3 linked regions of the Homo sapiens genome follow. The protein of the gene in region 1 purifies or fractionates together with the protein of each later gene. This does not show direct contact. Each region holds a gene or a part of one and is shown on either strand. Other genes may lie near its edges.

Evidence for each region.
Region 2: the proteins of SEC24D (region 1) and ARFIP1 fractionate together in Homo sapiens (co-fractionation; one large-scale study listed by BioGRID). This does not show direct contact.
Region 3: the proteins of SEC24D (region 1) and ERN1 purify together in Homo sapiens (co-immunoprecipitation; one study listed by IntAct). This does not show direct contact.

The regions. Positions count from the first base shown.
Region 1 is NC_000004.12:118,722,180-118,725,243, forward strand, and holds the end of SEC24D (protein transport protein Sec24D), read right to left. Parts: intron 1,477-3,064; coding exon 1,336-1,476; 3' UTR 644-1,335; downstream 1-643. UniProt on the Homo sapiens protein: Component of the coat protein complex II (COPII) which promotes the formation of transport vesicles from the endoplasmic reticulum (ER).
Region 2 is NC_000004.12:152,782,903-152,786,564, reverse strand, and holds part of ARFIP1 (arfaptin-1), read right to left. Parts: intron 1-3,662. UniProt on the Homo sapiens protein: Plays a role in controlling biogenesis of secretory granules at the trans-Golgi network. Mechanistically, binds ARF-GTP at the neck of a growing secretory granule precursor and forms a protective scaffold.
Region 3 is NC_000017.11:64,038,514-64,040,927, reverse strand, and holds the end of ERN1 (serine/threonine-protein kinase/endoribonuclease IRE1 precursor), read left to right. Parts: 3' UTR 1-1,786; downstream 1,787-2,414. UniProt on the Homo sapiens protein: Serine/threonine-protein kinase and endoribonuclease that acts as a key sensor for the endoplasmic reticulum unfolded protein response (UPR).

The sequences.
Region 1 (3,064 bases):
AAGTTGATGTTGAAGCAACATGCCAGTTGGCTAACATGGGGGGGATTTTAGTTCTGTCACTGTATTTGTTTTTCTACCTACTTCATGACATCTAATTTATAAATAAATCTTACTAGCCATATAATCAGAGACAAGGAACTTAAGCCTGTTTCTTCATGTGTAAATGGGGCTGATAACAGGATCAGGGTTGCTGTGAAGAATACATGTGCATATGTTCCCAGAAAACATAGTGCAGTTCTTGGGACACGATATGTACTCAATATATGTTAGCTATTATTATTCATATAATTGATAACAAAGTTGAATAGGGCAGGTAGAGGCAGATGCCTTTGTGACATCACTCAAAATCATTCTTCTAGGTTTAGACATATTCATTAATAATGGTTTCATGTCGCCCATTTCTATTTATTTTGCCCACAAAAACATTTTAGAGAACTTTGAAATGCCTTTCTCAAGTATAATATGATGTTTCTTAGATTTATTGCCTAGTACTCCTCAACCCTCAAAAAAAAAGAGAAAATTTTGTTTTCCTGATTTGTTCTTAGTGAGCTACCCAAACAACTTTTTGCCAAGACTTTTTGAATACTACCCTTATTTCTTTTTAAGACCTAAAAATACATAATAAATAAATAAATCTACCTACTAAGATTATACGAAGTGATTTATTGATACTGGTTAACATCCATTATATACAGGTAGAAACTTTCAAAATTGTACAAAGAACCATTAAGCATATTGATAAAGACAGTTTTACAGACAAAACAACTGGAAAATAGTTTTAACATACACAATATATAATTATGAAAAAAATGTAGAACACATATTGTTCTACCAGATAAATCCCAAGGTTATTAAAAGTCTGCTATGCAGACCTTAAGTTGAAAAATGTGTTCAATGGAGTTACATGGTTTTAGAAAATTAAGTATAATGTAAAAATTAAGCTTTTTTTTCTCATTGCAATTGGGAGAGGAACTGAGACAACTTTTTACCCCAAATCTATACAGTTTGAAAAATAATTTATATGTCTAGCATAAAGAAAATTGAGAATGTTTATGGTTCTGTAAACTTTGCCTTTTATGAAATGCAAACCACATCAGTTTTAAAAATTAGAAACTGTGCAATCAGAAACAGATTGTTCCCTTTATGGTACAATTGTACCTTAATTGGCTTTATACCTGAGCACCAAAGCTGAAGTTCTAAATGCCATCTCTTCCTGGAAAGTTATTCTGAAAATGAGCAAGAAATCAAAACTAGCCTATTATCATCTAGAAAATTAGGCACCAAGAAGGAGATTATCTCCTTGGAAATGCAACATCAATGACAGAGAAGTTTCAATTAATTAAGCAGCTGACAGATCTCCTTGTGAACACAACAAAGGAAATCCACATAAGAAGAGCCTCCGTAAAGTCCTTTGTCTTCTACCAGGAACTGTCGGAAAACCATTTCTGGTTGTTCTCGCTGCTTTACAATTGTGAGCTAGGAAAAAAAAAACAAAACAGTAACAGCCCCTGGTTATAAACATTATTTGAAAATGGGTCAATTTTGTCTATTTCAATTTTGGCAAACATTATTGAATGCCCATTATGTGTGAGGCTATGGAGGATGATGGGAAAGTGCCTGATATCTAGAGTGGAAAGAGGCATGGACCCCGAAACCCCAAAACCTAAGACATACAATTTTAAGTGGCAAAAATGAAACCTAAGCAGAGTGTTACGGGAAAGGCTTCACAGTGATAGTAACTGTCCCCTGAGCCTTAAAGGATAGGGGTAGGGCTAGAAAGTGTTCCATACTGGAATACATGTGCCATGTACCAGAGATACAATTATGGCTGGCATGTAAATTATCACAGGCTTCTTCTAAAAGGGACAAATTATCATCATAATGAGTTTGGGTTTCTGTAGGAAATGTGATCCAGTGAAGGTGCAGAAGAATGAAATGAGAGAGTTAAGTGGCAGCAGTATGTACAATACATTCGTGAGATGAGGGACACTAGATAGGAAGTGGTTTGAAGTGTCTGGGTGGGAGATGATCAGGTTCTGAATTAGAGCAGTGGAGGTGGAAAGGGGGTAGATTGGAGAGATGCTAGAGAGGTTAACACACAGGGAAAACAGGGAGAACTCCTGTCCTTTGCTCATCATGATTCTCTAGACCTGTGCTGTCCAGTACAACAGCCAGACACACATACTATTGAGCATTTAAAATGTGGCTCATCCAAATTGAGATGTGCTGTAAATATAAGATTTCTATATTTTCTATATAAGATTCTAGAAAAAAATAGATTTCTAGACTTAGTATGAAAAATAAAATATAAAAATATCTCAATAATTGATACAGATTACATATAGAAATTATATTTTAGATATACTGGGTTAAATTAATTATTTAAATGAATTTTTTCTTTTTAAATGCAGTCATCAGAAAACACAGAATTGCATATTCATTTGCATTACTGGAGAGTGCTGCTCTAAGAAGAAACCCACAGGGAAGAAGCCCAGAAGAGAGGCAGTTTTGTCATGAACACTTTGAACCCTTCTTTCTACACCTGTATTCCTACTTGAGGAAGTCAAGGTAGATGATCTGAATTGTCATAATTTCATATTTATTGCGCCACAAGTGGGGTTAACTGAGCCACACATGCACAACAATGCCTCTCCACCTGCCTCCTGTGTAATTAAGAGGAGCGAGGGTATTTCTCACTTCTTCCTCTCAGGAGGTAAACCCACCAGAAAGGCCTGCAATAGGGAAACACATGCAGTTAGCTGCTTCACCAGCTGCAGCAGGGAAGGTATGTGCAATTTTGGCTAGGAGGGCAGGGCCCTCCCTACTTTTGCATTCTATGCTTTTTAGTTATCAAGCAGAGAGTAACTCTGTCAACACCACTTGCTTTTTTCCTTTATAACGTTTCGGCCTGGATCCAAGTCTGTTAGGTTTTAAGTTGCCCCGACCTAGTAAAAATAATAATATATAAGAACAACTGCTGTTGCCACAACTCAGCTAATTCCATGTGGATACAGATATGTGTGATGCCTTGGCTTTTGGGTGTCAGCTCTAGGTACTGGGAGTT
Region 2 (3,662 bases), about 34 Mb from region 1:
AGTTTCAGGCAAGATGAAGTGGCAGTAGTGGAAACAGGAAGAAATAGAAAAATTCAAGAGTCATGTAGAAAGTAAGACTTTAAAAACTTGTTCAATCATTGGATCTATCAGGGAGAGGGAATTAAGGATCACTTCTAGTTTTCTGGATTTTACAATGAAAAGATAATTGTGTCATTCACTGAAAAAAGGAACAAAGAAAGAACCAACGTTGTGCAGTTTTGTAGGGAGGGAAGGGGAAATCAGTTTCATTTTAGACATACTGGATTTGAGATACCTTTAAGATATTCAAGAAAGGATGTCAACAAGACAGCAAGACATACAGATCTACAGCTCAAAGCAGACAGAAAACACTCATGCCCTTAATGAAGCTGACATCTTTATCCTAGAAAAGCAGCTAACTATAATCCCCAAATATCCAAGAAAAATGTTAGACTTAGACTTTGACCATCTGGATTTAGTTAAAACAAAAAGCTGAGAGAGAACATGGCAATAACATTTCATCAGCTAAAACAAAAACTGCTAGGCACCATGGGTAGCAGATTTTTAAACTCGTGGTTCAACAATATAGGAATTATGTATCACATCATATCATGTCGCATTTTAAAGTTTTATCAGGGCTGGCCAATGTTGTTGGAAATGTTCTAAATTTGCACTGTCCAATAAAGTAGCCACCAGCCACATATGATACTGACACTGAAATGTGGCTGGTACAATGAGGAACTGAATCTTTTATTGTATTTAATTTTAACTAACTTAAATAGCTACATGTGGCTAGCATCCCTGGCATTAGACAGTGCAGGTTTACAGCTTTCTCATATATTTCATCTGATTCCCCAATACCTACTTTTCAAATTAACTGGGAGAGAGGTGTGGTGGGTGGAGAGATTAGAGGAATAGAAAAAACATCCTTTCCATTTTCTGCTTATTACTTGAATCTTTATTTCAAGAATTTATAATACTTATGCTGGATGCAGTGGTTCATGCCTGTTATCCCAGCACTTTGGGAGGCCAAGGCGGGAAGATCGCTTGAGCCCAGGAGTTCAAGACCACCCTGGGCAATATATAGCACTGAAACAAAACAGATAAGGTCCTGGCCATTTTAGAGATTACAGATCACGGGCTTAAACCCAGGGGCTCTTTCCACTGAGGGTATAAATTCCTGATCCATCCCTTTTTAGGTATGTGACCCTGGACAAAGCACTTTACCTAAATCTCAATTTCTTTATTTCTAATGTGGTGATGTTATCTGCTCTACCTATTTGGTATGGCTGGAGTAAAAATAAAATGAGGATGTATGTGAAAGTGCTTTGTAAATTATTACATGCTAAACAAACAGAAGGTATTAAACAGAGTAACATATTCCTTTTCTCTAGGGCAAAGATTTCCAAACAGTGTGCCAAGAATGGATTACAGATGTGCTGAAATTGTGACCCATTCCCCCACTCCACAGCTTCCAAGGAACCAAGGAGGGCCTGGCTCTAGTCTGCCATACAATTATAATCATTTTTTATGTGTGCCATGATGAGTATCTCAGGCTAGCAGAAACTGGAGTTGGCGAACTGACTCCCTCCTCTGGAAGATTTAGGGCTTACCACTAACTCTGCTGCTTTTATGATCCTGTTCCAAAGGCAGTATGTCACTGTTCCCCAGGGACCAATGAGGCTCAAGCTTCAACATCAAGGAGCTGCTAGTCCAATGCTATCACAGATATACAAAAATAAAATATAAATTCTTATCTTAGGTGAGAACATGGTAAAGACACTGCCATATTTTCACAAAAGATTTGAGCAATTGCCTGTTTTGCAACTACCTTCAGATCCCCAAATCTTTGTCTTTCAAGAGAGGATCTGATTTTTTCCAAATACCCAAAGTTATTCAGATTCTGGTGACTGAGGTCACGAAGTGACGAAGCCAGGCAAGAACTTCATTTTTGTATGTCTCAATCTGAACCGACAGTCATACTAGAAGAAGATTTCAAAGCAGATTGCCTACTCTGAAAAACAGCATTCACTTAAATAAGTATGTTCATTAAGGGAAAAAAGTGTATTTCATAAAGAGACTTTATATTCCTTTTTCAGGAACAACTAAAGGTTTGAGCAACACCTGCCTATGCCCATCCTAAGACAAAGGCTTAGAAGGAATGGAGGAGAATGGAATGAGAGATGGGAGAAAGAGGAGAATAGGAATAAAGGAAAAAGAAAAAGAAAATAAATACTTTTGTCTCATAAAGAATATCTGTTAATCTGCAAGAGCCATTCGGCAGCTTCCATGACTGCCAAAAGCTACTAAAGATCAAGGAAAACAAAATTATTTTCAGGCCAATAGTCTTTTTCATACATCCAGAAGTAGTGCTACATATCTGACTTTTAGATTGTCATGATCCTAAGTCATCAACTTCCATATTAAGTGGAACAACTCACTTTCCATTCTGTACAAATATTTTAGTTTTTCATCCATAACCATATTAAAGTTTCCTGTTTAATTTACTCCTTCTTCCATTCTGAATTTATTCTTTCCATCCCAAATGTATTATTCTAAAATTTATTTATACTTCCAGACTCTTACAATGCCCAGTTTATTACTTATAATCTTCATTTTCACATTTTCCCCTCCTCATATACACACACACCATCTGCTTATTATTTGAATCTTCATTTCAAGAATTTATAATACTTACAATTCTTTATTTCAAGTAGGTGTGTGTGTTCTAACACACACACACACACACACCAGAGACTTATATCCATCCCCATAGGAAACCCCTACCAACTGCCTCCACCAAATTCACTTTTTTGTCAAACTTCTCAGTATGATATTCAACCAGATGTTCATCCACTGAAGATTAAGAAAGGAAACAACCTTTTCTCAACACCTGATAGAAAGTCAGGTGATATATCTCCAACTCATTTCAAAAAGGACATAATGGACGCATGGTAGAAGTTGTCTACAGTAGTAGTCTAGAGTCAGACAACGTAGGTGGAGCCATGCACTGGCTCCACCAGCGCAATTCTGAGCAGACTACTTTAGCTTCAGTTAATCATTCAGCTTTATTTTCTTCACCTACAGAAATGAGGACTTTAGCCACTTTATAAGGTTATCATTTGAGATAATAATGTAAAGCACTTAGCTTAATGCACATGGTAAGCAAATAAATGTAACTGTTACAGTGTTAGATATAAAATATCTTCCGAATTTGTCATTACCTTAAAAGGAAACTAATTTAGCATAAGCTAGTCTGTTGTTGATGTTGTTTTTGAGATGGAGTCTCACTCTGTTGGCCAGGCTGGAGTGAAGTGGTGGGATCTTGGCTTACTGCAGCCTCCGCCTCCTGGGTTCAAGCGATTCTCCTGCCTCAGCCCCTCCCAAGTAGCTGGGACTACAGGCATGCAACACACACCCGGCTAATTTTTTTATTTTTAGGAGAGATGGGGTTTCACCATGTTGGCCAGGTTTTGAACTCCTGACATCAAGTGATCCACCCGCCACAGCCTCCCAAAGTGTTGGGATTACAGGTGTGAGGCACCGTGCCCAGCCTAGCATACGCTATTCTCTATAAACTTATGTTGACTGCTCCCCCAAGTGAGGTTGCTAGACAGAGGAAAACTTATTCTGTGAGCAGAAGAAACTGGATACTCATGATAGACTATGATGAGCTGTATAGG
Region 3 (2,414 bases), on another chromosome or scaffold:
GTGATCCGCCTGCCTCAGCCTCCCAAAGTGCTGGGATTACAGGCTTGAGCCACCGCACCCGGCCTAATCTCAGTTTTTGAAGTGCTCCACAAGTCATTAGGCACCAAAACATTTTCACCTGGGGAACACTGGCATTTCCCTGATTAGCTGTGAAGCAATCTAGTGGCTAAGTGTGAAATCCTGGGTGCGCAGGTGTTCTCACTCCCGCCGTGTTCTCAGTGCAGTGGTGGTCAGAGGCCCTTCCAAGGAGACATCACTCTGATCAGTTACAGATAGATGTTCTGGAAGATCTGCAGGTGAGTAGATCCAGCAGAGTTTCTTCCCACCAACTCTAGAAGAAAGGGCCTTATCAGAGTTGACCCTGAGCCTTTGGTAAGGTTTTGTGTGCATGCGATTCAGTTATCTTTGGCAATTCTTTTCTTGCTGCAGTGAGAGATTAATTGGTTGCTGATCAAACCGTTCATGCAGATGGGGGGACCTTTGGATTGTACGGCTTTCTCCTCTTGGCTGCTTTCTTTTCAGGAAGTTGGACTTTGGCCAGGTTTGGCTTTCCCAGAGCCGTTCCTTTCTCTGTCCTTTCCTTGGGTCCTCATGGTGTGCCCATTGGATCCTTGGCCTTGTGATCCTCTGGGAACTGGGGGCCAGTTCCACTTTTGCAGCCTTCTGTGCTGGAAGAGAAGCCCAGCGCCCTGGAAGGAGCCTCTTTAAGTCCCCCATGTCGCTTTCTCTCTCTGCTCTTTTAGTGTCTGAGATTGCCTTTCTTTGAATTTCCCAGTGTTTCTTTTCCTTGTCCCTTCCCTCACCAACCTGGAGTTATTTTGGTTGACTATGTCCTGGCTTTGGCTTCTCCTGGCAGGAAGTCATCAGGCATCCTCTCCAGGTGAGCCGAAATTCCACCCTCCCAGGTTGGACATCATCTTTTAAACCCAATGGTCTACTCCCCTCCTTCTTTATGAAACAGTGATTTCCCGTGAGTAACTCTGGTTCTGATTTTTTGTACCGGCGCTTAAATTCTTTCTGTAGACGTTGGAAAGCCACAAAGAACGTGACTGCAGTGAGCCTCCCACTGGAGCAGCCTTAACCAACACTTTGGCCAAAGCCCCCCCACCTCCCCTGTGTACTGTGTGTGTGTTTGGTGGATACAGTATTCCTTTTCAGTGTCCCTAAAGCTGTGATGGGGAGTCCCCACTTACCTAGAAAGCATTACCAGTCACCTACTCTGCATTCTCAGATGTAAACCTTGTGTAGTGTTCTTTTTGCAATGACCTATTTATTTAACCTATTTATATTTATTTAATTTTTACTCTGAAATGTATCCAGTTACAATTGTACTTGCTTAAAGCACATCAGATTTGTTTTGGACAACACCCTTGACCATTTTAAAACTGGAAAAGTGATACTGTATCCTTCCATGGGATGGATGCTTTACAGTAGTCTTATTATTAAAGGGTGATTAATTTGGTCGGGGTAAAATGTTAATTTTTAGGTGATTTTTAAGAATTCTGTGCCATTATGTCTTCTGTGTGGATGGTTAATTGTTTAATTAGTACGTGTTAATTGTGTGATACAGTCTTCTTTGTGGAACCCAAAATCCTCTTTTTAGCTTTATATTTTATAAACTGCCAGATTGTACAACTTTTATGTGCATTTTTAAAGCTTGAAGACATGAGGGTCATTATCTAAGTTAAACAGCCTATTTTTGTGCCTCCTGTACAGTTTTATAATTCTGCTGATGGCGGCATCTTATGTCGAGCCAACCACAATAAAGGTAGTTTTAGATTTTGGAGTCAGTCTCATTTTCTTAAAGATTCAAATACCATTCTCAGATAGGCTGTGCTCACTGTCCTTCTGGGTGGCCGGGGCTGGATTATGAGGCCTTTGCAGCTGGCTCGGCTGGTGGGGGATGGGTGTCCTCATGTCCACAGCAGGGTCCGGGGACTGGAACACCCTCCATGGTGGCTGTGTGTCAGAAAAGCTTCTTTGAAACCTTGCAGGAAGTTCCCAAAAGTACTGATTTGGGCTGAATTCCAGGAAGGTGGCCAGCTGGGACAGTCATGCCACGTGGTGAGAATTGGGCTTCAAAGCAGAGTTTGGGGCATGTGTACAGTAGGTAGGATACCAGACCAGGAAACCCAGGAGGGGAGAAATGCCATTGAGACCAACAAGGGCTGGGAGTGCCCCCAAAGAGTGGGACAGCGGCGTGTGGAATGAGCTCAGCTGACGTCTGCTTGGACTTTGCAATCCTCCCAACACACCTGCTCCTTCCCCTGCACCCTCTCTATGGAGAAATCAGGTGAGGCTCCACTTGCTCTTGCAGTGCCAGGCCGGGGGCAGCTTACAAGGGAGGACCCCAAGGGCCCACCTGCCCCAGGACAGCTTAGCGGGGGCTGCATCCAGGCTAGCTCCTGCCCTCC